Regions from separate parts of the Homo sapiens genome. Here region 1 is linked to region 2. Evidence: fine-mapped expression QTL. A gene starts in region 2. The other region holds a variant in brackets. All regions are shown on one strand. Distances are from middle to middle. Region 1 overlaps MAPT-AS1 (MAPT antisense RNA 1). Region 2 holds the start of MAPT-AS1 (MAPT antisense RNA 1).

The links. PIP is the estimated chance that this variant, and not a neighbour inherited with it, causes the effect.
Region 1: its variant is fine-mapped to the expression of MAPT-AS1 in testis (GTEx, PIP above 0.99).

What each region holds. Positions count from the first base shown.
Region 1 is chr17:45,846,624-45,861,732 of GRCh38, forward strand. The region is part of intron 1 of MAPT-AS1 (MAPT antisense RNA 1); the gene reads right to left. SPPL2C (signal peptide peptidase like 2C) reads left to right here. Exons shown (of 1, transcript NM_175882.3): 1 at 1-444. The coding sequence ends at 338. Among named protein-coding and RNA genes, the nearest start is that of SPPL2C, 9.3 kb to the left of the region's middle. RefSeq lists an enhancer at 1-148. The variant T/C (reference allele first, on the strand shown) is at 6,211.
Region 2 is chr17:45,888,298-45,903,406 of GRCh38, forward strand. It overlaps MAPT-AS1 (MAPT antisense RNA 1), which reads right to left and starts at 7,216. Exons shown (of 2, transcript NR_024559.1): 1 at 7,183-7,216. It overlaps MAPT (microtubule associated protein tau), which reads left to right and starts at 6,257. Exons shown (of 13, transcript NM_001377265.1): 1 at 6,257-6,389. MAPT-IT1 (MAPT intronic transcript 1) reads left to right here and starts at 7,486. Exons shown (of 1, transcript NR_024560.1): 1 at 7,486-10,501. RefSeq lists enhancers at 6,200-7,085, 7,086-7,971, 8,858-9,742.

The sequences.
Region 1 (15,109 bases), 42 kb before region 2:
ACAGCAACCCTGGAGAAGACACCACTGAGATTGTCACCATATCTGAGAATGAAGCCACCAATCCAGAGGACCGCAGTGATAGCTCCGAGGGCTGGAGTGACGCCCACTTGGATCCTAATGAGCTGCCCTTCATCCCCCCTGGGGCCTCGGAGGAGCTGATGCCACTGATGCCAATGGCCATGCTGATCCCACTCATGCCCCTGATGCCCCCGCCCTCAGAGCTGGGCCATGTCCATGCCCAGGCCCAGGCCCACGAGACTGGCCTGCCCTGGGCGGGACTCCACAAGAGGAAGGGTTTGAAAGTAAGAAAGAGCATGTCGACCCAGGCTCCCTTGTGAACTGGAGGCACTGGGACACACGCCTCTCAAAGGGCTGGTGGAACATTGCAGAGCAAAGCCATGCATGGCAACAAGAAATCAGGGTATCAAAGAGATTTCATATCTACCCAAGGAGTCTCTCTGTTTGTCGGGAGTGCAAGAGAGCAGCAACCACATAATAAGAGTGTGCAGGGCTCGAAGGGTCCTTAGGAGTGGGCACCACCCCCAAATAATGAAGGGGGGAAACTGAGGCTCCAAGAGGGCCTATGACTTGCACAAGTTCAAGCGGCAAGGTCGGGATTTGCATCCAGGGCTCACTGGGCAGCTACTCCCCTCTGCCTGCTTGCCCAACCCCTTCCCAATCCAGAGTGGCAGCTTCTTAGCCTGGCACACAGCCCCCATCCCATCCCTGCCACCCACCCTAGGCTCATTGCCCATCTTCTCTCCATGCTCAGGTCAAACAGAACTCCTTGTCCTCCCCACCCGCTCTCTCTGCATATGCTGTTCCCTCCAGCTGGGATGCCCTTCCCTCTCCAGACAGAAACACTCCAGCCTGGCTCCCTGACTCACTAGAAGATTCCGAAGCATCCTTTACTCCTCAGCTCACATCCATTCTGCAAAACGTCTCTGTTCAAGAATCCCAGGCAGCAGCACCAAGCCCAGCAAGTTCCTGTATGCACCACCCATTCCATCTTCAGGCATTGAGTATGCCCCTACTATGTGCATCGCCATGTGGTGGGCACAGGGAAGGCCTCTGTCTAGCTGGGGGAGGGGGAGGGGTGGGCAGACAAGAAACAAACTTAGAATTGTCTCAAAGAGGTCGGGAGGGGTTGGAGAGGTTGGGCCCAGGGTGGAAGAATTCCGGAGACCAAGGCCTCCCTCACTGACTCTAAGTAATGTTCAAGCCTCGTTGGGTCTCTGTAGTCTCATCTGCAAAATGAGACTTATAATACCATTTCCATCTGGAGGCAGGGGCATGGACGAGATGACCTCCTAAGGACTCTACAGGCTTTTAGGCCATGTAGGGTGCTGATGTGTTGCTTAATCAGAGCAGACAAACTCTGGGGTGAGAAGGCTTCCTGGAGGAGGTGTTTTTGGAGGGGAGGAAAGTGTATCCCAAGAGGCGGTGTGGTTCAGTGGTTAGGGTTCTACAGCCAGGCTGCCTACCACAAATCCCAGCCCTACCACTGACTTGGAGTATCTCACTGAGCAAATGACTTATCCATTCAGTGCCTCTGTTTTCTTGTGTGTGAAATGGGATAATAGGACCTACCATCTGGTTCTTAGGAAGTTTGAACGAGTTGGCCTATGTCAGGTGATTGGCACAATGCCCTGCCTGTCCGAAGAGCCCCCTGCACGTGAGCTATGTTTATATTGCTCCCCTAGTGAAAGCCTCACAGACTCAAACCCAGCTCCTACAAGACCTTGAGGTCCCAGCCCAACGGCCCTCTTCCACCCCTCCAAACCCCTACCGCCACAAGCACACGCCAGACCCACCACACCCCCCATGCTTTTTCCTCTTCTTGGAACTCTCTTTCTGCCCCTTCCTTACCACGCCCCGTGAACTTGGCCTGGCTGGCTGCTCCTCTTCGCAGCCTTTCCTAAAGCATCCCTGTCTCAATCACACGACCAGGCACCTTTAGTTTTCCGATCTTCCCCGGTAGAGGGCCAGCTTTGGAAGGGCAGGGGCCTTGCCCATCTTGTTCATCTGTGTAATTTCAGGGCTCAGAACAGCCCCTGGAGTGTTACAGGTGCTTGATGTATTTGCTGGAGGAATGAACGGATGGATGAATGAATGAATGAATGAATGAGGAGTTGACCAGCCTGAACTGCAGAGGAGGGAATGCTATGAGGGAAGGCCCCACTGCCCAGGCCACCTCACAGGCTTCCTGCAGGACCTTGGTCAGTGTTGACGTGAGACTTGGCAGGCCTGGCTGGGCCCTGGAGTGGGGAGAGAGTCCCAGGGAGGCAGTGCAGGTGGTGGGCCTCTCAAAGCCCCGCTTGCCAGGGAAGAAGTGCAGCCTCTCGGTACACAGCAGCTGAAGGCCCGCTAGACAAGGGAAGCTTGGAGAACCCGGCCAGGCCACTGCGGAGGTGTTGGCAGCCCCTCCCACCGGAGCAGTGGCCATCTGGCCTGGACAGAGGGCCCTCCGCAGGCCCTGGCTCAGCCCCAGCCTGGGCAGCCTCCCTGCTGCTGGCCTGCGTCACGGGGCCTGCCGAGGGCAGCTGCACCCTCTGCCAGGCCCGATGGGAAGGGCTGGACAGAGCCGAGGCCTCCTGGGCTCCCTGGCCCCCACATCCCCCAAAGCAGGAGGTCAGGATAAAGGAACTTCTCTTTCCCAGAAATCCAGTCTGAGGGCTCTGAGGATGCAGGCCTGGAGCTCCGCAGGCCTGCAGGGAGGCCAATGCCTACCTCCAAGGAGAGGGGATTCAGGGAGGGTCTGGGTCAGGAGGCCTCCCCCTTCCCGGCATCCAGACCTGATGGGGAGGTGAGGGCCCACACGGCCTGGATCTGCTGCCTCCATCCCTCTTCCCCAACCCCCAGCTTGCTGCACTGTGCTTGGGCAGCAGAACTGAGGTGCTCACAGGGTCCCAAGGCCAGGCCTGGGGTGGACAGCAGCCCAGGGTGCAGTGGCATCACAGTGCCCAGGTAGCTCTCAGCTCTGCTTCTCACTGGGAATTCGTCCTAGTCACCTAAGTTTCACCACCCCCTCCCCCTGCTGGTTCCCTAGTGTGGCCACAGCCAGGACTGACCAATGTCGGGGACCTCTATGAAGGACACCCCAGCTCCAGAGCTCCCGAGGGCTCACTGGGGCCCCAGCCAACCGGCCCCGAGGCCCAGCTTCATCCTCACCTTCCTGCAGACCTCACTCCCTCGCAAGCATCTCCCCTGAGACCACTGCCCAGCACCTCCCACCCAGCATGCTCCTGAGGTTCATTCCCAGGGAGCCCAAGCTAAGACACAGGGACAGCTGCCTTCTACGTGTGAACTGGAAAAACTATGTGAGTCCCCCCACACACCCCTACATCCTCCAAGCTCTTCTGCCCTGCTCAGGAAACAAGTGTGGAGACGGGGCTGGAGGCAGGTGATGGGCAGGACCTTTCTTCTTCCTCCCAAGAATACTCTGCAGCAACTCTGCCCATTTCACAGATGGGGCTGGGCAAGGACTCTGGGTCTAGAGGCAGCTTGAGGGTTTAGAAAGAGGCACCCAAGCACGGCTGCAGGTCAGAATCATTGGGGCACCTGCCAAAAATCTGGATTCCTGGCCCCACCGATTCTGAGTTGACAGGTCTGGGGTGGGACCAGGCATCAACCATTTTGAGGGACCCCCACCCCCACCCCAGGGTGAACACCTTTAGAGTTTGGCTTCAGCCTCTTGTCTTGGCTGGGCCAGGAGGAGATGGGGAGGAGGGAGACCAAGGCTTCAAGGTGCCGGGGGCCCAAGGCAGGTCCTGCCTTCCATCCTGACATACACATTCAGCTGGGGGCCCTGCAGGCTCCCCTCCCTGAGCCCTGGGTACACCTGACCACACCCGGAGGCTCAACCTCCACCTTGCTCCCCTGGCCAATCCCGGTCTGGGGCAGGAGAAATTGAAGCAACTTTACCAACCAACAATCTTCACTTAACCGCCACATTTCTCAACCCCCACCCCACTCTCTAGCATGTCCTCTGAGGCAGACTTTGTCCTGTTTTGTTCATCATGCACTGGACCTGGCACATAGTAGGTGCTCAATAAAACATCTGTTGAATGAATTCACTGGCTGGATGAATGTCCCCCTTACTAGCTGTGTGACTTTGAGGATGCAAAAGTCTCCTTACCATAAAGTGGGCGTAATAACACCTCCTGCCCCAGGGGTTGTGGTAAGTAATAAGCCATATGGGTGAGGAGCTGAGCCCAGTGCCCGGCACAGAGTCAAGTCTCCTAGATCTTGCCCTGCTGCCCCTGCTGTGCCCTCTGATGGCCCAATGTCCCTACTCCTGCCCAGAGGCCTCCTCTTACTCTGCCAGTCCTCTTCCCAGAGGACAGGGCCAACTCCAGGTGTCCAGACCACGCTGCCACCTGCCAGCGGTGCCCAAAGCTGGAAGCCCCTGCCTGAATGCCAGAGGGACACAAGATACTGCGCATGGGCATATACACACACGCATGCACACACATTTGCATACATACATATACACATGGGCACATACCCATGCTGCACACTTCACACACCCCCACACCCCACACCTGCACACATATACACCCATGCGCACATCCACACACATATACCTGTACTGAACACATGCACATGCCCCGTGCACACCTGTTCACACCCAACACGTGCACACACACACACACACCTCTGGGCTCTGACCTGCTGCGTGTGGTTCCCTACAGATCCAGCCTTTCCCCACCAGGCCTTTCCTGGGCTTACAGGAGTGGGGGTGCTGATCCCTGGATTTCCCATCCCAAAGGACAGGGTGGTCAAGGTCCCTCCCTGCAGGCCTACCCCTTTCCTGGTGGAACAGATCCCCCTTCAAGACAGAACTCGCTGCCCAGCTGCTCTGAGGAGTGTGGTTCGAGGACAGCCTCCTGGGGGCACCTCAGCTTTCTAGCCCGGCTCACTCGTGCTCTTCAGGGGAGGGGGCACAAAGGGCCGGTTACTGGCTGAGCAAGACAGGGGCCCAGGCCCTGGCTGTCTCCACCCAGAGTGGTCTTTGCTTTGATCCCATGGGCTGGCAGAGGCAGCACAGGGCTGCATCCCAGGCTGCCGGCTCCCCGTGCTGCAAGCTGCTTCCTCCTGGCTCCACCACTAACCACCACAGCACCTGCTTCCTGGACAGCCTCACCTGTGATAGGTGAACCCTCAGATGAGACCAGGGCAGGAATAGCCTCCTCAAGGCCACCCCCAGGGCCCCAGGTGGCCCAGCCTCAGGGTCGAGCTGTTTTACACAGGCCAACTGGCATTTCTGTCTGTGACCTTGGTAATCCCAGCACCAGCTTTATGAGCATGGGCTTGGTTTTCTTTTGTTCATGAGAGGGTTTAGTACTGGAGCTTCTGGATTTCTGGGACAGTGGGGACCAGCAAGGACCTGTGAGATGATCTCATCCACAGATGAGGAAAGGAAAGCCCAGAGAGGGCCAGGACCTGCCCAAGGTCACACAGCAATGGGACAGCAGAAACGAAATGCAAGTCTGGTCTCCTGCCTCCCAGCCCAGCAGCTGGGACCAGCTCTCATCCTCAACAGCCCCTCCCTCCACACACCCTGGTCTCTGATTTTGTTCCTCTGAAATCACACCTCCCCCAGGAAAACTCTGGGTCTACCCACTCCTGTGCCCTGGGAGGTATAGCCCCACATTCTCCTTGAGAAGTATCTGTGTGTGTTGCTTGATAAAGGTTCAGCATCAATCCGCTTGCCAGCTAGAAGGAGAACACAGCTGGACTTTGAGACCTGGGTTCAAAGCCCCACATTGCTTTCTCTTGTCATGTGATGCTGGACAACAGAAGCCAGCCCTCTGAGCTTCAATTTTCTCATCTGTAAAATGGGCTGCTAAGACTCACCTAATGGTTCGTTGTAAGGATTAAATGAAGTGAAGTATGTGTATGAACAGCTAACACTGGCTAAGCACTTACAGCAGGGCAGATAAATGCATTATCTCATTACGTGTGACCCAGGTTTGGGGAAAAACTTTCCAGGACAGCACCTGACATACCCCCAAATGCCGTCTTCCCCAAATGAGCTCCCGGAAGTGGAGTCATCCTCTTCCCTTGGTCTCCCCTGCCCACGCTCACTGGGATGTGGTGTGTGGGTGGGTGCCTGGTGGTAAGCAGGGCACCACCGCAGAGCCAAGAAAAGGTTTCCCAAATTCCCCCACGTACTGGGTCCTGCAGTTTAACTGAACCACCAACGTT[T/C]TGCGCCTTTTTTCCTGCAACCCTGAACCTTGAATGCTCCTGTGCTGCCACCTACTGGCCAGGAAGATAAGAGCAAGCAGGGGCTCATGGAATTTGGGGATAATTATAATCAGTAATGATATTTAAAATATGTTTAATAAACTAGCAATCAGCAGAGTTCTGAAGCCCCTATTGGGCTCAAGGTTAACGCTTTAGAATCTGGGTTGTTAGAAGGGTGAGGTGCCCTGGAGGAGGTTATTTTGATATTTTATTGAATGAAATAGCCCAAAACAGCATCACTGAATGTCCTTAATGCCTAAAGACGGTCCATGCCCTGACACTTACCCCACCCCATAGAATCAGACCACCATGAATAAGTGTCCTCAGGCCCCCCGGTTCCTGGACTATTTGTACGCAAGATGAGGAGACTCCCCATATGGCCCCTCCCCACCCCCACCCCCAGGTCCAGACCCAGTCCTTGCCCCTGGAACGGGACCTGGAAGGGAAGCAGACAGCTGGGGCTGCTGCTGAGAGAACCTTGGGCTGCTAAAATCTGAGACGTTCTGAGTTTTTGTTTTTGTTTTGGTTTGGCTTGGTTTGGTTTGTTTTTTGAGACAGGATCTTGCTCTGTCACCAAGGCTGGTGTGCAGTGGCATGATCACAGCCCACTGCAGCCTCAACCTTCCAGGCTCAGGTGATCCTCCCACCTCAGCCTCCCCAGTAGCTGGAACTACAGGCATGCGCCACCATGCCCTGCTAATCTTTGTGTATTTTTTGTAGAGATCGGGTTTTGCCATGTTGCCCAGACTGGTCTCCTAGGCTCAAACAATCCTCCCGCCTTGGCCTCCCAAAGTGTTGGGATTACAGGTGTGAGCCACTGAGCCTGACCTGAGACCTTGTTCTGAGAAATGCCTTTAAGTAGTATTCCCCAGGCTCCCAAAGACTTGAATGGCAGCAAAGATTGGTGGGGTTTGGGGGATTGCAGTGAGGTCTGAATAATGGTGTTGGCAGAGCCTCCAGTGATCATCCAGAACTGAGGACAGAGAGGGAAAGCAGCCTGCCCAAGGTCAGACAGCAGACCCAGTGACAAGCCCAAGGCAACCGAGAACCTGGAAACTAATGCAGAAACCCTTCGTAAACAGGAGACGCTTTCTGGTTTGCCTTTCAGAGGCTGCTTCATGAAGCCCCCAAATTCCCCCACATACTGGGTCTTCTTAAAGCAGGAGGCCCCTGGGTCCAGAGAGAAAAGAACTCTGAGCAAAACCCTCAGTCCCTCGTCCAGCCTGGACCCAGGCTTGGCCCTGCCTGCAGTTCCTGACTTGACCCAGACACTGTAGTGAACTCAGGCAGGAGGGGCCACACCTGAGAACCCTCACCCATCACAGCCCAGGTTCTCTTCCCGGCTATCCCCCGGGACAGCCCCAGAGCATGAGCCAAGGGAGTCTGGTCTCCACCTACCTTGCTTAATCCTTAAAGCCAGTTGTGACACATTGAATAATGTCCTCCCCCAAAAATTTGGAACCTGTGATCATTACCTTCCATGAAAGGGAGCAAAGGAGAAAGGACTTTGCGGAAGTGACTAAGCGAAGGATCCTGAGATGGGGAGATAATCCTCTATCGTCCTAGCGGGCCCTAAACGCAAGCACATGGGCCCTTATGAGAGAGAGAGGGAGAGAGAGAGAGACAGAGACAGAGGAGAAGCTGGGCGCAGTGGCTCACGCCTGTAATCCCAGCACTTTGGAGCCCAAGGCAGGTGGATCAATTGAGGTCAGGAGTTTGAGACCAGACTGGCCAACACAGCGAAACCCTGTCTCTATTAAAAACACAAAAATTAGCCAGGCATGGTGGCACATGTCTGTAATCCCAGCTACTTGGGAGGCTGAGGCAGGAGAGAAAGCTTGAATCCCAGAGGCGGAGGTTGCAGTGAGGGGAGATTGCACCACCGCACTCCGGCCTTGGTGACGGAGTGAGACTCCATCTCAATAAAAAAAAAAAAGAGAGAGAGAGGACTGGGTGCAGTGGCTTATGCTTGTAATCCCAGCACTTTGGAAAGCCGAGGCAAGTGGATCACCTGAGGTCAGGAGTTCGAGACCAGCTTGGACAACATGGTGTAACCCTGTCTCTACTAAAAATACAAAAATTAACCGAGCATGGTGGTGGGTGCCTGTAATCCCAGCTGCTTGGGAGGCTGAGGTAGGAGAACTGCTTGAACCCGGGAGGTGGAGGTTGCAGCGAGCCGAGATTGCGCCACTGCACTCCAGCCTGGGCAACAGAGCGAAGCTCTGTCTCAAAAAAAAAAAAAAAAAGAGCTAGAGAGAGAGACAGAGGAGACAGCAGGATTACACACATGGAAGTGGAGAAGGCAATGTGGTGATGGAGACAGATTGGAGTGATGTGGCCACAAGCCAAGGACTGCCAGCAGCCAGCACGAGCTGGAAGGGGTAAGGAATGAATTCCCCCTAGAGCTTCCAGAGGGAACACAGCCCTGACCCCTTGATTTCAGCCCAATGATCCTGATTCCAGACTTCTGGCCCCCAGAGCCGTGAGAGGGTATATTTCTGTCGTTTGAAGCCATCAGGCGTGTGATCATCTATACAGCAGCCACAGACGCGAATCCAGGGTTCAACAGACATCTGTGGCACAGGCTGCCCTTGCGCCCAGAGCTGTGCCTGAGAAGTAAATGGCTCACAGAGCAGACAAGATGAAGACATAACCCAACCACAAAAGCCCCCTGGCCCGCCGGGTATACTTTCCTGCAGGGGAAAGGTGGGCACAGGGGAGTCAGGGAAAGAGAGGCGAGAACTGGAGTCTTGGCTGCAACAGCCAGTGAGTGCATTCTCAGTTCAAGCCACTGCACTGGGCTCCAGGGACTTCTTTCCACTGTTATTGATTGCACTCTAGAGGAAAATTGGAAAGCACAGGAAAGTAGAAAAAAAAATCCACATTACTATAAGCTTTTGTTTTATTTCCATCCAGTCATTTGTTTTCCCCACGCATAAGGGTTTGGTTTTGTTTTTATTTTTTTAATTGTGGTAAAATACACATAACAAAATTTATCAAAGTGTACAGCTCAGCAATATTATTGAATACACTTACAATGTTGTGCAACTAGCACCACCATCCATTTCTAGAACTCTTCATCTTGTCAAACGAAATTCCATACCCACAAACAATAACTCTCATGCCTTCCTCCCCAGCCTCTGGCAACCACCATTCTACTTCCTGTCTCTATGATTTTGACTACCCTAAGTGCCTCATATAAGTGGAATCACACAGAATTTGTCTTTTTGTGACTGACTCATTTCATTTAGCATAATGGCCTTAAGGCTCATCCATGTGGCAGCATACTGCAGGATTCCTTTCCTTTTTAAGGATGAGTAACATTCACTGTGTGTATGCACCACATTTTGCCTAGCCATTCATTCCTCTGTTGGTGGAAACTTGGGTTACTATAAACATTGGTGTGCAAATATTAGATAGTGCAAAATTTATTGTGGTTTTTGCCATTACTTTCAATATCTCTGAGGCCCTGTTTTTAGTTCTTTGGGTTATATACCCAGAAGTGCAATTTCTGAATCACATGGTAATTCTATGTTCAATTTTTTGTTTATGTATGTATGTATGTATTTATTTATGTATGTATGTATGTATGTATGTATTTATTGGGAATGGGGTCTTGCTGCATTGCTCAGGGTGGTCTCGAACTCCTGGGCTCAAGCAATCCTCCCTCAACCTCCCAAGTAGCGGGGATTACAGGCATGAGCCCCTGGCTTTATGGTGTTTGTTTGTTTGTTTGTTTGAGACAGGGTCTTGCTCAGTAATCCAGGCTGGAGTGCAGTGGCACGATCACTGCTCACTGTAGCCTTGACTTCCTGGGCTCAAGCAATCCTCCCACTTCAGTCCCCCAAGTAGCTGGAACTACAGGTGCACACCACTATGCATGGCTAATTTTTTTTTTTTTTTTTTTTAGTGGAGATGCGGTCTCACTATGTTGCTCAGGCTGGTTGTGAGCTCCTGAGCTCAATCGATCCTCCTGCCTCAGCCTCTCAAAGTGCTGGGATTACAGGTGTAAGCCACGGTGCCCAGCCTCTGTTTAATTTTTTAAGAGATTGCCATACTGTTTCCATAGAGACTATAGCATTTTACATTCCCACCAATAGTGCACATGTGTTCCAATTTCTCTACATCTTCATCAATACCTATTTTCTGGTTTTGGGTTTTTGTTGTTGTTGTTTGTTTGTTTGTTTGTTTTGAGACAGAGTTTCGCTCTTGTCGCCCAGGTTAGAGTACAGTGGCACGATCTCGGCTCATGCAACTTCCACCTCCTGGGTCCAAGCCATTCTCCTGCCTCAGCCTCCCAAGTAGTTGTGGTTACAGGTGTGCACCACCACGCCTGGCTAATTTTTGTGTTTTTAGTAGAGACAAGGTTTCACCATGTTGGCCAGGCTGGTCTCAAACTCCTGACCTCAGGTGATCCATCTCCCTCAGCCTCCAAAACTGCTGGGATTATAGGCATAAGCCACCATGTCCAGCCAATTTTCTGGGGTTTTTTTGTATTGTTTTTTTGTTTTTTTTTTTTAATAGCAGTCTTCTTAATAGATATGAGGTAATATCTCATTATAGTTTTGATTGGCATTTTTCTAATGCTCATTTTTCCATGTGCTTATTGGCCATTTGTCTTTTTAAATGGAGAAATGTATTTTCAAAACCTTTGTCCTTTTTTGAATCAGGTTGTTTGTCTTTTAGTTGTTGAGTTTTAGAAGTTCTCTATATATTCTAAATATTAATCCTTTATCAGATATATAATTTGCAAATATTTTCCTCCATACTGTGGGTTGCCTTTTTACTCTGTTGATAGTGTCTTAGGATTAACAAAATTTTTTTAACTTTTATGAAGTCTAGTTTTTCTTTTTTATGAAGTCTGTTGTCTGTGCCTTTGGTGTCATATCTAAGAAATCATTGCCAAATTCGATGTTGGTAAGCTTTTGCCTGATGTTTTCTTGTAAGAGTTCCATGCATAGGTTTATTATTTGTTCATTTCAGTCCCAAGATGTCATCTGTCACCCAGGCCATCTGAATCCTTGTTAAAGAAAAGGGCACAACTGTTCTTTGTCATGTCCATCCAGCTGCAGGACTTCTGATACCTCCCTACCATTTGTCAAACCAACCCCAACTCCTCAGCCTGGTGTTTAAGGCCATCTGCATCCAGCCTTCCCTCCTGACTGGCCTTCCCTCCACTGGCCCCTATACATCCTGTTCACATGGCTCTTCTCACACGCTCACCCTTGCTCCGTGCCTCTGCTCACCTGGAATGAGCTTCTTCCACCTTCCTCTAATTCCTATAAACAAGAATCCACTGAGACAGTCCACATTCCAGGGCCCCTGTGCTGGGCCCTGTCCAAGGTCCTGGAGATGAACATAAACAAGATGTGAGAGTGGCGGGAGAGGGTCATGGATGCATTCTCTTTAAGACTCTTTCGGCTTTGAAGAATAAGAAACTGCTCAAAGTAGCTTAAGCCAAAAGAGAAGCATATTTGAAGGGACACAGGAATTTCTCAGAACAGAAGGGCAAACAGCCCAGTCAGGGCTCATGGGAACTGGGAATTAGAAAGCTTTCTGCCTCGCCGAGCTTCATAATCTCTGGGCCTCCACTTCCTCTTCTCCCCTCCCTGGGCTGGCTGCCTCTGCTCACCCATTTTGCCCTTGTCTCGTCATGCCACTGGCCCCCAACTCCACGTCATTGCCTCTCAGCCCAGGGGTCACCAACAACAGGCAACGGTGTCTATGCAGCCACATTTCAGACTCTCTCGAGAGAATCTACCTGGCTTCCACACTCTCTAGGGACCCTATTTGTTTGGCATCCTGTCACTGACTGTGGGTGAGCCCATGGGTCCCTGACTCAGGTGCCCACCCCAGGTCCAATCAGCTGTGGCTGGAGAGGGAGGGTGAGGAAGGCAGGGGCCACTGGATCACAAGGTTGTTCTTCCTGGAGATTGCTTCTCCCGGATCAGAGTCTGAATTTTATCAGGATCCCTGGGTGAATCATGGGCAGATTAAAGTGTAAGAAGCAGGCCGGGTGCAGTGGCTCAGCCCTGTAATCCCAGCACTTTGGGCCAAGGCAGGAGGATCACTTGAGGTCAGGAGTTCGAGACCAGCCTGGATAACGTGGCAAAACCCTGTCTCTACTAAAAATACAAAAATTAGCCAGGAGTGGTGGTGCGTGCCTGTAATTCCAGCTACTCAAAAGGCTGAGGCAGGAGAATCACTTGAACCCAGGAGGCAGAGGTTGTAGTAAGCCGAGATTGTGCCACTGCACTCTACCCTGGGCGACTGAGACTCTGTCTCAAAAAATAAATAAATAAGTGAAAACAAAAATAATAAAGTGTAAGAAGTGCAGCTGTGGAGCTGCGGTTCTCCGAGAGTGGTCCCTGATCCAGCAGCCTCTGCATCACTGGGCAACTTGTTAGAAATGCAGATTATGGGCCGGGTGCGGCGGCGCATGCCTGTAACCCCAGCACTTCCGGAGGGCGAGGCGGGTGGATCACCTGAGGTCAGGAGTTCAAGACCAGCCTGGCCAACATGGTGAAACCCCGTCTCTACTAAAAATACAAAAAATCAGCCTGGCATGGTGGCGTGTGCCTGTAATCCCAGCTACTCGGGAGGCTGAGGCAGGAGAATCACTTGAACCTGGGCGGCAGAGGTTACAGTGAGCCAAGATCACACCACTGCATTCCAGCCTTGGCAACAGAGTGACACTCTGTCTCAAAAACAAAAGAAACAAACAAACAAAAAAATGCAGATTATGAAGCCCTATCTTAGACCTGCTGAATCTGAAACTCTGGGGGTGGGGCCCAGTCCTTTGTTTTCACAGCCCTCCAGGTGACTCAGATGGGCACCAAAGTTTGAGAACTATTGCCCTAAAGCAGGGATTGGCAAGCTTTTCCTCTAAAGGGCTAGATGGTAAATACTTTAGACTTGGTGGCCTCAACTCTGCTGTCATAGCACTTAAGCAGCCATAACAATAGATAATAAAGAATAGGCACATGTGGCAGGCAGGATTCTCAGGCAAGTCTGGGCCCTTTTTGATTTTTGCTGCCATGTCTTGGCTGACCTCAGTTTCTGGACTTCTGGTTTCTGCTTGACTTGTCATCAAATGACCTTTGTTCTCTCATGGATCTAACACTTGCTCTTCTTGTCTTTATTGGGAGCTCACCTCTCCAGTCTGCCCACAGCTCCCACATGGCTGCCTGGTGGCCAGCACAGCTCAGAAGCATGGGTGACGGGTAGGAAGTGTTGTAGGAACAACAGGTTTGTATGCCCACTGTGCGCTAACAGACCCAGTAACTGAGACAGCAGCGTTGACAGGGAGAAAGAGTTTAATGATCGCAGGGCACCAAGTGAGGAGATGGAGACCCTCAAATCCATCTCCCACAGTAGTTTTGGGTGAGGTCTCTAAGGGGATTGTGGAGGGTGAGCTAGTGAAGAACTGGGGCTGTTGACTGGTTGGATCCTTTCAAGAATCATGAGTTTCAGTGCCCTGGTTGGTTCCTACCTGCGCTCATGCCCCACGGTTGGTATAACAAATTTCCACAAACCAGGTGGCTTAAGACAACAGACATTTCTTTTCTCCCCATCTGGAGCACAGAAGTCTGAAGTTTAGGTGTGCCCAGCAGGGCTGTACTCCCCATAAAGGCTCTGGGAGGAGTCCTGTGTTTCCTCTCCCCACCTCTGGTGACTTTAGGCACTCCTTGGCTTGTGGCAACATCGCTCCAATTTCCACCTCCACTGATATGTGACCTCCTCCGCACCTTTGCGCATTTCAAATCTCCCCCTGCCTTTCTCTCATGGTGCACTTGTCACTGGATTTAGGGCCTGCCTGGAGATCCAGGATGATCTCATTTTGAAGCTCTTCACTAATTACATCTGCAAGACCCATTTTCCAAATAAGGTCACATCCACAGCTTCCTGTGGACATCTATTTGGTGGTTGAGGCACACTATTCAAACCCTTACACCACCCTCCCCATCAAACACACAGGACCAGACTAGGGACAATTGGTGTCTCCACTCCACCTCCATCCTAATCAGAACTACAAAGGACAAGGTTTCTGGTCATCCCCATACTACAGCCAGAGCCAGAAGAACATCTGAGAAATAAGGCATGGCCCCTCTTCTCCAGGAACCCATGGCTCAATGGAAGCAGAGCTGCCAAGAGGAGTGCCATATTTCTACCCCACTATGGCAGTGCCTACCCCTGCCCACTAGCTCCTTTCAGGTTCTGGAGCTATGCCCAGAGGATGAGATAACGCCCACGGGGAGCCGGAGCATCCTGGAGAGCATCCCATCCTGGATGGATGGGTCTTGCAGGGCGCCCAGTGATCCTGACACACACACAAACTCCCTTCTGCAGCTTCCGTTCTCCTAGTGCAGGAGATTTTACAGTTGCCAGGATGGCAATTAGGAAGGGAACGAGCAGCCAAATGGCGCATTCTTGGGCCCCGCAGCCAGCATTCTGTGCTGCCCGTCTCAGTGCCAGGAGGATGAGACTTTCCAGAAAGCAAGCTATGTCCAGACAAGATCCATCCTGAACATTAGCTCAGCAACAATGAGGGAAATGAAGAGTAAGCAGGCCTGGCCTGCTGTGCTTCTCTGACAGATGCTGATAAGAATGGTCCAGCTGGGGACTGCTATACATGGGCCCAGGGAAGAGAGAAGCAGCTGAGAGTTAAGGAGAATTGAGGACAGAGCGTCATGGCAGGAATAAGTAAATAGGTTAGACTTGGGTTATCTTCCCAGATCTGCTACTAATTCGCTGTGCAAGCTTGGAAAGGTTCGAAAAGAACCCCTACCAATCGTTAGAAAAACAAATAATCCAACAGAGAAAATGATGGGCAAAGAATTTGAATAGGCATTTTACATAA
Region 2 (15,109 bases):
GCATTCAAGAGAATCTGGAAATCCAAGATTTTCAGGGGCATCAACTCAGATGTCCCTGTTTCACATGTCAGGGTCCCATCCTTTCCCAACAAGGGCTCTGACCTTGATATAGCAGGCCTACCTTGCTTGGAAGCTGCATTCGTCCTTTCTCATGCTGCTAATAAAGACATACCAAAGATTGGGTAATTTATAAAGGAAAAAGGTTTAATTGACTCACAGTTCAGCATGTCTGGGGAAGTGTTAGGAAACTTACAATCATGGCAGAAGAGAAAGCAAACCATCCTTTCTCACATGGTGACAGGAAGAGCAAAGCGGGGTAAGCCCCTTACAAAACCACCAGATCTCATGAGAACTCACTATCACGAGAACACCATGGAGGTAACTGCCCCCATGATTCAATTACCTCCCACCAGGTCCCTCCCACGACATGTGGGGATTATGCGAACTCCAACTCAAGATGAGATTTGGGTGGGGACACAGCCAAACCATATCAGAAGCTTAACCTTCTTTGGAGCATGATTATTCAGTTGAACCTAAGTTCAGTAGTCACCCAGTTATGCTGTCTTCAGCTACTATTTTCCATATGTTTCTCAAACATCTGATATATCACACTGGCTAGTGCACTTTCTTCCACCAGCATACCATCTCAATTTACCACTTTAACAATTGGACTGCCACTTTGTGTCAGGGACTATCTGTGCTCCAACTACTACAAGTGATAAGGTCCTCACTGACAGCCAGGGAGCAAGTGATCCAGCTCTAAAACTCACCTTATCATCTGCTTTCCTAGACCACTCCTAACAACCAACTATTCTGGGTTGAGTTCTCCAAGAGGCAGAGAGTTCAGGATACAGAATGTTGTTTTGTTTTTGTTGTTGTTGCTGTTGTTGTTTGTGTGTGTGTTTGGGCTTTTTTGAGACGGAGTCTCACTCTGTTGCCCAGGTAGAAGTGCAGTGGCATGATCTCAGCTCCCTGCAACCTCCACCTCCTGGGTTTAAGTGATTCCCCTGCCTCCACCTCCTGAGTAGCTGGGACTACAAGTGTGCGCCACCACACCCAGCTAATTTTTGTGTTTTTAGTAGAAATGGGGTTTTACCATGTTGGCTAGGCTGCTCCCAAACTCCTGACCTCCAGTGATCCACCTACCTCTGCCTCCCAAAGTGCTGGGATTACAGGCGTGAGCCACCACACCCAGCCCAGAATGTTTATTAGAATGCACAATTAATACCAGAGGCAGTGGGGAAGGAAGGACTGAGCAGAGGAGGAAGTTGAGTTGTGATTCAACCCAACAACTGCCTGGCTGGCATGGGGAGCTCTGGAGTTAAATAGGGCCATCAGACTTTCCCAGTGTGGGGCCAACATGACTGGGTCTTTATACCCCCACCTCTGTCAGTCACTCAACGTGGTCTCCCTGCAACAAGGTGACTCTTGCAGCCGAGACAATCCCTGAAGGGACAGAGGGCTGAAGCCTGTCTGCCAACAGCACTCCCAGTGGCTGGAACAAGTCCTTCCCTATAGGGGAATCTGGGCGGCACACCTCCATCTCCATGTCCATCACATACGATATCACAGACATTTAAATATTTTGATAACTGTACATAAGAGTTTCCTTTATAATCTTATAGATCTTATTTTATGCATTTGAAAATATTCTTCTGAGACAGGGCTTTTATCATATTGCCATAGGGTGCCACGATATAAAAAAGGTTAAATACTCTCTGATTCAGAAGTATCCAATGATGACTTCTCTCTCATGCATTTAATTGAAAATCTGGTTTTTCTCCTTCTCTGCTAGTTCTCTACCTCTCTCCCCACCTCCCACATCATAGCCTATTCACATATGTCTGAATCTCATGATAGACAAGTTCAGGTTCTTTTCCCAGGTTCTTTTTACCACATCCCCCCACCCCCACATAAAAAGTATATATGGCACAGCCTAGGTTCCACCCAAATCCTTTCTCCTCTTCTTCCTGGGCCCACAACTCTCCTACATACATTGGTATACCTTGCGCTTAGGGATGGCCATGTGACTAAGTTCTAACAGTGGAACATGATCAGATGCCACTTCCAGCCTCTAAGACAGCCAGTGTGTTTCCTCCATAAGCTCCTTCTCTTCCTCCCAACTGGAGACTCTAAATGATGACCCTGCCTCAAGCAAGCAAACAACAAGTCCCTCAGGGGTGGTGTAGGCTGCAAATGGAAGGAGCTTGAGTCCCAAACCTTCCACGGAGAAGGCTGGCTACCAACCTGGATCACTCACCCAAGACTGCTCGAAGAGTTGGTTTGAACCATTGTGTTTTGGGGTCTATTTATTACAACAGTTTAGCTTGCTTTGTGAATAGATTTAGTGGCAGAGCCTCCAAATTCTATAGATACATTGATCTCAGTCCTAACCGCATCTGGAACACCATTAAATAAAGGAATTGCAAACCCAGAGAAGGTAATGAATTTGTCTAAGGTCATACAAGATGGCTAGGATCAGGACCCAACTCTCCAGTTTTCTTTCTTCTCTGCTATTCTGCCTTCTGTGATCCTACATAAGTGGGCATGATTGTATAACATATGCGGCCATGAGATTTCTCTTTCAGCAAGAGAAAGGGACAGGAAGAAAGAGAGGGAATGCATTTTCTTGGCCTGAATTAGTGTGAGCCATTAGTTACCTACATTGACTAAATTATCTGGAATGAACATTCAACTCTACATCACATATAGTTAAAATGACAGATCTGCTTAAGATTGTTTCTAGCATACGTTATTTCAATTTAGGCAAATGTGACCATTCAGTGTGAGGGGACCATACTGTCATTAGGTCCCTGTCAGTTCTCAATTATACTGTTATCTTAGAGGGGGAAAAATGTGAAATTTGAATGTAGACGAGTGTTGATTTGACTGCTACAGTTTATTTTACGTATAGAAATAAAATAATGTGTAGCAAAAGCATTATTACAAAGATGATAATGAAATAACTAGTATTTATAATAGTATAATAGTATAGTATTTATAATAGTATGATAGTTTAATGACTATTTGTCAGATGTTGTGTAAGAAACTTTATACACACACACACACACACCTCATTTAATTCCTGTATCAATCAGGATACAGGACGCTGTGGTAACAACTCCTCAAATCTCGGTGGCTTGCACAACAAATGCTTATTTCTTTTTTTTTTTTGACACCAAGTCTTGCTCTGTAACAGGCTGGAGTGCAATGGTGCAATCTCGGCTCACTGCAGCCTCTGCCTCCTGGGTTCAAGCGATTCTCCTGCCTCAGTCTCTCGAGTAGCTGGGAACACAGGCACGCGCCACCACATCTGGCTAATTTTTGTGATTTTAGTAGAGATGGGATTTCACCATGTTGCTCAGGCTGGCCTTGAACTCCTGACCTCAAGCGATCCACCCACCTCAGCCTCCCAAAGTGCTGGGATTACAGGCATGAGCCACTGCGCCCAGCCCCAAATGTTTATTTCTTGCTCATGTGACATGTACTTCCTCGAGTTTTTCCTTCCTGAGATCTAAGCTGAAGGAACAGCTCTCTGGAGCCACGCCATTCTGGTGGCGGAAAGGAAGAGTAAAAGTGGTAGAACCTTGCAATGCTCTTGAAGCGCCTATTTGGAATGTCTACATCATGTAAATGGTAATGGACAAGTATGTATAATCCCCACACCAAAAAAAGGGGACACTATTGGGGACAATAACCACATTTCAATGCTGCAAGACGGATATTGACTGCACCCCCTTCCCACTTTCAGAAAGAAGAAGAGTAATTTTGCTGAACTCCTTCTAGAGACTGGAAATGTCCCTTCCAGTTGGGGTGATTAGGGAAGGCTTTGGTAAAATTTGAGCTAGAGTTTGAAGGTTAGGTAGACTACTGGTGGGTGAAGAAAGAACAAGGACCTTTGTAGGCAAAGGAAAACCTCAGAATTACAGAGGTGGAAAAAGAGTTCTAGTCAAGCCACTTCAGCTGGCTACAGAGTAGGTGGGAAAGAAAATGGGAGGACAAGGGCTCAGATGATGGGGGGTTGGGGCATTGGGGGGACACTTGAAAGCTAAACTAAGGGGTTGAACTTAATTTAGGAGGCAGTTAGAAGCTTTTACATATTTTTGAGCAAGAGAGTGACATAATTAAAATGATCTGGGCCAGGTGTGGTGGCTCACACCTGTAATCCCAGCACTTTGGGAGGCTGAGGAGCTTGGGTCACCTGAGGTCAGGAGATCGAGACCAGCCTGGCCAACATGGTGAAATCCCGTCCTACTAAAAATACAAAAATTAGCCGGGAGTGGTGGCATATGCCTGTAATCCCAGTAGCTGGGAGGCTGAGACAGGAAAATCGCTTGAACCCGGGAAACAGGTTGCAGTGAGCCGAGATCGTGCCACTGCACTCCAGCCTGGGCAACAGAGCGAGACTCCATCTCAAAAAAACAAAACAAACACACACAAAAAACCAAAAATAAATAAATAAAATGATCACTTCTGAATACTGATCTAACTAGGGGTTGCAGGGTGGGCTGATATAGGGAGAAACTGGAGAGCAAGGAGATCACTAAGGTCCCTACATGTCCAGAACCAAGATAGAGGTCTTGAACTAGGATGGTGGCAGTTAGAACAACAACAACAAAAAGTCAATTCCAGGCTGAGTGCAGTGGCTCATGCCTGTAATCCCAACGCTTTGGGAGGCTGAGGTGGGAGTTAGAAAGCAGCCTGGGCAACACTGCAAGACCTCCTCTCTAAAAAAAAAAAAAAAAAAAAGTTAGCCAGGTGTGGTGGTGCCCACCTGTAGTCCCAGCAACTCAGAAGGCTGAGGTGGGAAGATTGCTTGAGCCCCAGGAGTTCAAGCTTGCCGTGAGCTACGATTGTGCCACTGCACTCCAGCCTGAGCAAGACCTTGTCTCCAAAAAAAGGTCAATTCCACTGACTTTTCTAAGGTGTACACCATCAAGGGGCAGCTCCATCTCCAGGCCATTGGCTCATGAGACATTCTGTAGTCAGAAGGCTAGGGCAGATTGCTTTGAGCAAGCCCCCATGGTGGTTCTCACTCCTACTTCTTTGGGTATATGCCCCTCTGTTTAAAAATAAAGTTAATATGCATTTAAAAAAAAAAAGGAGAAAAAGGTCAGTTCCAGAAACTGTGTGAATAAAGCATTTTACTTGCTTTTTCTATTAATCTATAACATATGTTGATTTTTTAAAAAGAATATAAGAGCTATGCAAATTGGAGCTTCAAGACAACTTCCCATCTCCCTAGGAGGAGATGGCTGCCCTAAACCCCCCTACATAGAAATCATCCCACTGCTTGGGCTTAAACTTGATGTTGGGGAAATGAAAAATCCAAGCTAAGGCCGAAGCCTGGGGCCTGGGCGACCAGCAGAATGAGGACCACTGGTCAGTTTCAGGCTGAGGTGCGTCTTCCAGGGGACAATCTCTAGCTGGCCCTTAAACATTCAGACTTCAAGCTCTATTTACAGCATAAAGGTGTTTCAAAAGACGTGATACAAATAACTGCAAATGCTCTGCGATGTGTTAAGCACTGTTTGAAATTCGTCTAATTTAAGATTTTTTTTTCTGACGTAACGGTTAGATTCACGTTTCTTTTTTTTTAAGTACAGTTCTACTGTATTGTAACTGAGTTAGCTTGCTTTAAGCCGATTTGTTAAGGAAAGGATTCACCTTGGTCAGTAACAAAAAAGGTGGGAAAAAAGCAAGGAGAAAGGAAGCAGCCTGGGGGAAAGAGACCTTAGCCAGGGGGGCGGTTTCGGGACTACGAAGGGTCGGGGCGGACGGACTCGAGGGCCGGCCACGTGGAAGGCCGCTCAGGACTTCTGTAGGAGAGGACACCGCCCCAGGCTGACTGAAAGTAAAGGGCAGCGGACCCAGCGGCGGAGCCACTGGCCTTGCCCCGACCCCGCATGGCCCGAAGGAGGACACCCACCCCCGCAACGACACAAAGACTCCAACTACAGGAGGTGGAGAAAGCGCGTGCGCCACGGAACGCGCGTGCGCGCTGCGGTCAGCGCCGCGGCCTGAGGCGTAGCGGGAGGGGGACCGCGAAAGGGCAGCGCCGAGAGGAACGAGCCGGGAGACGCCGGACGGCCGAGCGGCAGGGCGCTCGCGCGCGCCCACTAGTGGCCGGAGGAGAAGGCTCCCGCGGAGGCCGCGCTGCCCGCCCCCTCCCCTGGGGAGGCTCGCGTTCCCGCTGCTCGCGCCTGCGCCGCCCGCCGGCCTCAGGAACGCGCCCTCTTCGCCGGCGCGCGCCCTCGCAGTCACCGCCACCCACCAGCTCCGGCACCAACAGCAGCGCCGCTGCCACCGCCCACCTTCTGCCGCCGCCACCACAGCCACCTTCTCCTCCTCCGCTGTCCTCTCCCGTCCTCGCCTCTGTCGACTATCAGGTAAGCGCCGCGGCTCCGAAATCTGCCTCGCCGTCCGCCTCTGTGCACCCCTGCGCCGCCGCCCCTCGCCCTCCCTCTCCGCAGACTGGGGCTTCGTGCGCCGGGCATCGGTCGGGGCCACCGCAGGGCCCCTCCCTGCCTCCCCTGCTCGGGGGCTGGGGCCAGGGCGGCCTGGAAAGGGACCTGAGCAAGGGATGCACGCACGCGTGAGTGCGCGCGTGTGTGTGTGCTGGAGGGTCTTCACCACCAGATTCGCGCAGACCCCAGGTGGAGGCTGTGCCGGCAGGGTGGGGCGCGGCGGCGGTGACTTGGGGGAGGGGGCTGCCCTTCACTCTCGACTGCAGCCTTTTGCCGCAATGGGCGTGTGTGTGTGTGTGTGTGTGTGTGTGTGTGTGTGTGTGTGTGGAGGGGTCCGATAACGACCCCCGAAACCGAATCTGAAATCCGCTGTCCCTGCCGCTGTTCGCCATCAGCTCTAAGAAAGACGTGGATCGGGTTCTAGAAAAGATGACTCCCTGCACGCCCCTCCCTGCACCTCCCGAGCAGTGATTCCGACAGGGCCTTCACTGCCCCTGATTTTAGGCGGGGGCCGGCCCCCTCCCCTTTTCCTCCTTCAGAAACCCGTAGGGGACATTTGGGGGCTGGGAGAAATCGAGGAGATGGGGAGGGGTCCACGCGCTGTCACTTTAGTTGCCCTTCCCCCTGCGCACGCCTGGCACAGAGACGCGAGCAGCGCCGTGCCTGAGAACAGTGCGCGGATCCCACTGTGCACGCTCGCAAAGGCAGGGTTCACCTGGCCTGGCGATGTGGACGGACTCGGCGGCCGCTGGTCCCCGTTCGCGGGCACGCACAGCCGCAGCCACGCACGGATGGGCGCGGGGCTGCAGGTGCATCTCGGGGCGGATTTCTTTCTCAGCGCTCGGAGCGCAGGGCGCCCGGCGTGTGCGCTCCCTGCCGGAGGCGCGGGGCTGGCGCGCAGGGCTCGCCCCTCACTGCGGCAGTGGGTGTGGACCCTGGTGGGCGAGGAAGGGGGAGGATAGGCTGTGCCTCCTCCCACTCCCGCCCCCAGCCCCCCTTTTTTTCCCCCTCGGAACGCGAGGTGCCATCTTTTTTCGGCGTGTCACGTCTTTACGGTGCCATGCCAAACCGGGTGGCCGGGCTTCATAGGACAGGGCGGGGCCTGGCATTAAAGGGAGGGGGACAATCAGCGCTGAAATCTTGGCGTTTTGCTGCTGCGGGCGTGAGCACTGGGGGCGTTCGCCCAGCACCTTCTTCGGGGGCTCTTTGCTTTGTCTGTAGAGGTTACGTGATCTGCGCTCCCAGCCCTGGTTTCTGGCTTTTATTCTGAGGGTGTTCAGTCAACCTCCCCCCTACGCCCATGCGCCTCTCTTTCCTTTTTCGCTCCTCATTTCCGAGCCCATTGTTGGATCTCGAGGCTTGCTGGGTTCGATGAACTCGAGTCAACCCCCCGACCCCCGGCACGCATGGAACGGGCGTGACCGCGCGCAGCCTCGTCTCGGAGTCTGCCGGCGCCGGGAAGCTTCTGAAGGGATGGGATTCGAGTCTCCGTGCGCGCTGCGGGCGGCGGCAGAGGGATCTCGCCCCTCCCTACACCCCAAGTGTCCTGAGGGCCACGCCACACCAGGTTGCCCAGCGAGGGACGCTGGCTACCCATCCGGGGATGGGTGGGGAGCCCTGGCGGGGCCTCTCCGGCTTTACGCCCTGTTGCTTCGCCTGGCCGGAGAATGTGAGGAAGGGGCATAAGGTTACTGGTGCTTCGGCCACACCCATCTTTCTGAGCCCACTGGACTGGGCGCAGAGGGGGGATTGCCATGGAAACCACAGGTGTCCGGAGAGGGGATCTTGGGGCTGGCCTCACCCCTTCCCTGCGGAGATTGGGGACCCTGGGGTAGGGGGAGCCGCGCCCAGTCGGCCTCCTGGAGGACACGGGAGGAAGCCCCGAACCCCCGCGCCTGAGGCTGTTTCTGATTGGCCCCTGGAGGCCGCAGACACGCAGATAGGCGGCCCTGGGTGTATTTTTATTAATATTATGTCCGTACTGATTAATATTATTTATCTTAAATAAATTTCACCCGTGTCCAAGTTCACCGCGCCCCCAAAACCGAGTCTGGGGCGGCAGGGGGAACTCCTGGCCAACGAATCCATGCCTCGCCCTCCTGTGATGAACCTGGTACGCACGGTTTTCTGGTTAATTCTATCGCTGAAAACTGGTGCGGGGGGCGCACTTCTGAGACGGAAGAGCATCTAGGAGCTGAATCCTCCACGCGGGTCGCCCAGGTTGATCTGAATTTCTGGGGAATGGCTTGGCTGCCCGCCCGGGACCAGGCCGACCCTCCTTGACGGTGGCGTAGAGGGCTGGAGCCTGGGTACTGCGAGGCTCCTCGCATGGCTGGGCCCGCCGCGAGGGGTTGCAGAGCGGCTCAGGGATCGATTCAAGCATCGTCTCTCCTCCCTCGCCCCCAGACAGAGCTGGGCGCGGGGTTCCCCTTCCAGATGGAGCGAGGGTCTCGGGGTGGCCCCGGAAAAGGGGAGCCCGCGGCCACGGCTACGTATTGCCATCTCGCGAGCAGAGATGTCACCTCCTGCCTTTGGAGGAAAGGGAGCCCGGTGGGGATGAGCGCATTTAGCCCAATGCTGGGAACAAAGCGCACTCCGCGCTTCTGCGATTTCGCTCCATTTTGAAATGTGTTGGCGCTTTGGTGGGGCCGCTGCGGTGGGCAAGGCCGGGGGCGCTGTTAATGGAGGAACCTCAGGGGGACGGTCCTTCGTAGGAAACTCTATCCTGGCTCTGCGCGCGCTTTAAGGAAATGGCTTCCCTCCAGGACCTCGAGGGATGCAGCTTTTGCGCGGATGACGGTGGGGTGCTGAACCAGCCGGTGCGCCTCTGGAAATGTCTGGGCACGGATCCTGGGGCCATCGACGACTCCTCCCCATTCCCAGCAGGCGGGAGCTCTTACATTCCGAGCGAGTGACCCCTCTCACCCTCTGGCGCTCACACACCTGTAACTCCAAACCTCCGTCTCAGAATGGTCCAGGCTGGAAGGGATGATGGGGGCTCCGACAGCGACTGCCTAGCTCACCCCTCTGCGTGCTCAGGCTCCAGGCTCAGCAGGACCAATTTGAGTTCTATCTGATCCCCCTCGGCCCCTTAACTGACCCATCCTACAGGAGACAGGGAAATGTCTTTCCTACCGCGGTTGATTCTGGGGTGTCATTTTGTGTTTTGTGATGGCTGCTTATATTTACTGTATAAGCATTGTATTTACTGTATAAGCATTGTATTATAATTACTGTATAAGCTGCTTATATTTACTGTATAAGCATCTCCAAATCCTCCCTCTACGTAAACAAATTAATGGATAAACAGATAAGTGTATCCCCTGCCCCCACCCCTGCTACGCAGGTCCGGAGTGACTCTTGAAGCTCATACATTCCTTGGCCAAGTTTGCTTCTCTAACAGATGTTTATATAGCAATAACCTGGCTTGGCTCTTGGGTTCACCTTTGGACGATTTGGGGAAGGGGCTTGTTGGCTTTGCTGGGTTTTGGATGAGTGACAGTCCATGACTGTTCCTGCTGGAAGGGCGTGACTTTTAAGTGGTTTCTAATATCAGGCATTGCTCCTCCGACAGGAACAAAAGAAATGGATACTGCCCATAAATTGTTAGAAAACTTAGAATCGCTTTGATTGAGGAAAGGTTAGATTTATTCCGGTTGGAAAAAGTGGCCTTTCTATTAAACGTGCCCTTTGACCCTCATGCCCTTGGAGGTCGGTGCCAGCCTGGAGATGGGATAAGATTGTGGTTTTCCTTCTGCCTTTTTAACATCTGTTGTTACAGTCCATTTGTTGAAAATTTAAAGAAACTGTTTTATTCCACTTTCCCTCAGCATTTATGTGTGTGGTTTCAGTAGCTCTGTGGCTATATGTACGAACACGTGTTATTTTTCCAATTGGACATGTGATAATTTTCCAACTGGACCTTGCCTTCTATTGATGTATTTATTTAGCATCTTCCTTACTCCCTCCTTGAAAAAGAATCACTCAAAAACAAATAAAAACAGCCGTAGGGGCCTAATACAGTGCTAGACATACAAGAGGTATTCGGTCCATACCAAATGGATTTTATCCATGAAGGATAAATGGGGAAATACAGTGGGAAGCAGGTGGGAAACTGCGTTTGACTCTGCTCTTTCCTCCACCACCACTTTCCTCATCACCGTGTTCAGAGACCCCCAAAGCCCCCTCACACTCCCAGAAACACCCCCCTGGCCACTCCTAACTTGCCATGCCCAGGAGTTAGGTGCTTCCACTAGTGACATGGAGCTGGCGTTTGGGGGGCACCTCAGCAGGTGACGGGAAGAGAAGACCCCAGCCTCACCAGCTGGGCTGCAGCAGGGAGAGGAGTCCTCATGTTCCAGCAGGGACTCTCAGCTGTTTTCCTGTAAAACCATGGTTCTCAACTGGGGGCCACTGAGATGTCTAGAGAGATGTTTTTGTTTTCACAACTCGGGGAGGGTGCTACTGACATCTTGTGGGTAGAGGCCAGGAATGCTGTTAAACATCCTACAAGGAAGGCACAGGACAGTCTCCTACATCAAAATATGACCCAGTCCCAATGTCACCACTGCTGGGGTTGACACTGGCACTGCTATCTTAATTACATTCATTGAGTGTCTTTTAGGAGGCCCTATTCTAAGTGCTTGCTAAGATTATCTCATTTAATCCTCACAACACTTCCGCTATGTAGCAGGTGCTGTTATTATCTCCGTGATGGGGAAACTGAAGCACAGAGAGGGTTAGTAACTTGCTAAAGGTCACAGAGCCAGTGGGTGGTGGAGCTGGTTGCCTGACACTAGTTCCCTCCCCTCTCAGCCACATGTGGGTTTACTTGGCCATTGTGGACTAGTCTGGGAACCCAGATATGATCTATAACATTGACCCAGTAGAATATTGATTCCAAAACCACTGTCTCACAAATGAATTTTTACAAGAGTCTGTAATCGGAGCATGACCCAGAATAAGGTTAGGGAGATGTGGAGTTAAAGCTCTCAATTTCTTATCTGGCCCCGACACAGAGAGCAAGGCATTTCACTCTACATTGGTGCTCTGTTTATAAAACAAAGAGCAAATATCTCTTCCTAAGGTCCTTAAACCTCTTCCCCCAATCCAGGGTTTCTGGACTGCTCTGCCATATGACGGGGCAGCTGGTTTGATTGACCCAGGGAAGGCTGGAAATCAAGACTGGGGGATCAAGACGTAGATTCAGTGTGGCCAAGGTCAAGTCTCTGAGGTTTAGGGACATCAGATCCCCAGCTTAGGTTCTGTACCTCGGCAAGGTGAAAGCGTTGGCGCCCACTGATGAGGCCTGCTCTGAGATTGTGGGTGTGGGTTGAGTTGGGTGGGCATAGGCAAGTCCTCTTGTAAGAATCTTTTGGCAAAGATGGGCCTGGGAGGCTTTTCTCACTTCCTGGGGCCCAGGCTTTGCAATAAGTATTCCATTATACTGTGGTACCTTGGGGCTACCTGAGAATCCTCTGTCTCGCCCCTGTTGCCTTGCCAAAGAGTTTGCTGTCCAAGAATTCCTTTCCTGTCTCCAGGTGCCATGCTCCTGCCACCTCTGCCAGGTTCCCTGCCTGCCCAGATGGCTCCCAACTGAGTGTGAGGAGGAATTTGAGACAGGTTTTGAGCTTTCTGGGTTCTCCAGTTAGGAAACTTTCTGTAAGCATGCAGATAGAATGGGCTTCAGCAAAATACAAACTCGAACAACTTCCATGTATAGTCCCTTAATTTTCTTTGCTTTTTTCATATTTCATCAGGCTCCATGCTGAGCCCAATCAGGGACCCGATAGAAATCCAAACACCATGTCAGCGAGTCCCCAAGAAATGCATTTTGTGCCAAGGCTATTCAAGGAAGGTTTGGGAGCAGCTCAAGGGCAGACACTGTTACCCTCCCCCAGGTCCCCAGTGCAGGGCAGTGTTCTGCATGTGGAGGCAGTTTGGCCTAATGGTTAAGGAGGTAGGCTCTGATCGGGCCTCCTGGGCACAAATCCCAGCTCCCTGCTCACTGTGAGACCTAAGCCATATTGTTTAGCTGCTTGGAGAGTTTTTTGTCATCCACAACTTGGAGTATGATGGTACCTGTCTCACGGGTTGCCATGGGGTTCACACAAGCTAACCCGGTACTCACTAGGGCCAAGCACATAGTAACTGCTCAGTAAATGGCATCATCGGCGGTGTCCTGTGGATGAGTGCTTGTGATTGGCTGAATGACCAGAGGGGTCTAAAGATCCTGGTGATGGAATCAGTTGTACAGATAAATTGTTACACTGAGTAGGGATCAAGATAGGAAAAGTCGGCAACTACCCAGCTCCCCTGCACCAAACTGGGCAGAAGTGGATCCTCTGAAAATTGCACACACCCATGTTTAAATGTACACACAGAACTCTTGCCACAGGCAAGCGGAGATTTGTCATCTGCTGTCCCTGCCTCATCTTCTTCCTGAAATCCACTCCATGCCAGGAATAAACTGCATGCTCTCCACCAGCCCAAACTGACCTGCCTTCCCGCCAGCCATCCCGGGCAGGGTGACCTGGCTTAGTACATCGGGTTCAGAGATCTTTCCAGTTTACTCGTTGAATAAAAAGTGAGGGCTGATCGAGAAAGTAATGGCAGTCAGGGAAGGCGAAGGAGGTAAAGAAGAGATTTTACAAATGAAGTAATTCAACAGAGTGCTGACATTGGTAAACTGGCAAACAGATTTCAGGGTGGTTGGTTGAGAGTAGAGTAGAAAAGGATTAAATAAAGCAAACTTGTGGTGTACTGAATCTTAGGAATTCCATGTATCCAATAAGTATAGTCATTTATGAATTAATAAATTCGGCCTAAGAAGCCTTCTTATCGCTTAAATCAAGACTAAGTAACAATATATCAGTTTTAAAAAGTCATTATATCAGAAAATCATTTAAATGATACACATAGATTTCCAAGATTTTACTTTAACCGAAACTATATAAATGTGAATTTGTTCACCCATCTTTTGACACAGGGCTCAGGTCTTCTCTTGGTGTCTGGATCAGCCAGTTGAAATTTCTTGTCTGTTTTGCCTATGCCACATTAATAATGCACTGTCTGGGTCCTCCGATTTCAGTTTGGATTTTGGGTTTACATTGTGGAGTCATCTGAATGCAGAATCCTTCAGGGATTTTACTTTTTTTTTTTTTTTTCATGGTCTTTACCATCCCATTTGATAGTAAATATTACTCACCTTTATGAAGTCTTTCCAAAACATTCAACTAAATTTTCTTAAAATCATTGAATGATTTGAAGAGCTTATTCCTCAGCACTTTTACTCCATCAGCTTGCACCTTATTTTTTAATCTTTTTTTGAGACGGAGTCTCGCTCTATCGCCCAGGCTTAAGTGCAATGGCGCGATCTTGGCTCACTGCGACCTCCACCTCCTGGGTTCAAGCAATTCCGCCTCAGCCTCCGCCGTAGCCGGGACTACAGGTACACACCATAATGCTCGGCTGATTTTTGTATTTTTGTAGGGATGGGGTATCGCCATGTTGGCCAGGCTGGTCCCGAACTTCTGACCCAAGTGATCCACCCACCTCGGCCTCCCAAAGTGCTGGGATTACAGGTGTGAGCCACCGCGCCCGGCCAGCTTGCACCTTATTTAGGATATGTGATTATTATAGCAAGTCTGGTGTACATACAAGATTTTGAATGGGCACAGATGACCTTTAGTAAGTGCTTGGCTGTGATAAGAGGCAGTCCTGACTGCAGATCAGGCTGTGTGGACCCCAGCCTTGCATGTTTACAGACCTTCATGTCTTATTCTTACAGGGTATCAGAAGAACACCTACTGGGGAAACTTATAAATTAGTAAAAGGTGGGCATTCTCCCCGCCCATCTTCTGTCTGTCTGCCAGGACTAGCACAGCACTTTGAAGTCATTCACATAGAATCCCAACTTAAGAGGGTAAAATCCTCCTCAACAGACTGAAAATAAGTTTAAATTCCCTTTGCTATATTAACTCCCCTGAGGAAAGAGTCTTAGATCAATGTCCAACACTAAAAACAGTTTTAAATCAGCAAGTGAGAATTAAATCTGAAGCAATTGATAATAATGTTTCATTCATTCCTCTCCTTTGGCCCCGTCCACCCTACTGCTAAATCCAGGCATCAAAGAGAAGAGGGACATAATTATCTCTAGTCCCAGCTGCTGGTTTTCCTTCCAGCCTATGGCCCAGTTTTCTGTTTTACTGAGAAGGCTGGTGATGTTATCTTGGGATCTAAGTCTGCAGTTTCACCACAAAAAGTCCAGGGATGCACTTTCATGCTTGTGTCCTCCTCCCTGGGATAGCAAGGATATTAGAAGACCCCTGGCTCTGTAATTGCTTGTCATGTGCTCTACAGACGCCACAGAATGCCAAGAACGAAGTGCTGGGAAGGACAAATTCATGGAACCGTGGGACGGTGCTCCTCCCCCAGCGTAAAGGACAGCTCCTCCTCCTGAATTGGAGCCAGCGTTCTAAATCATGTGTCAACAGAGTTGTCCTGGATCGGATCCAGTTCTGCCATTGATTTGCAGGTCATTTCAGTGGTACCTGTTTCCAGTTGTTCTTAATTGAACAGTGGCACCAAACTATTGTCTTGCCTCATCCCCCTCCCATGGCCTGTCCCCCAAAAAGAGACTT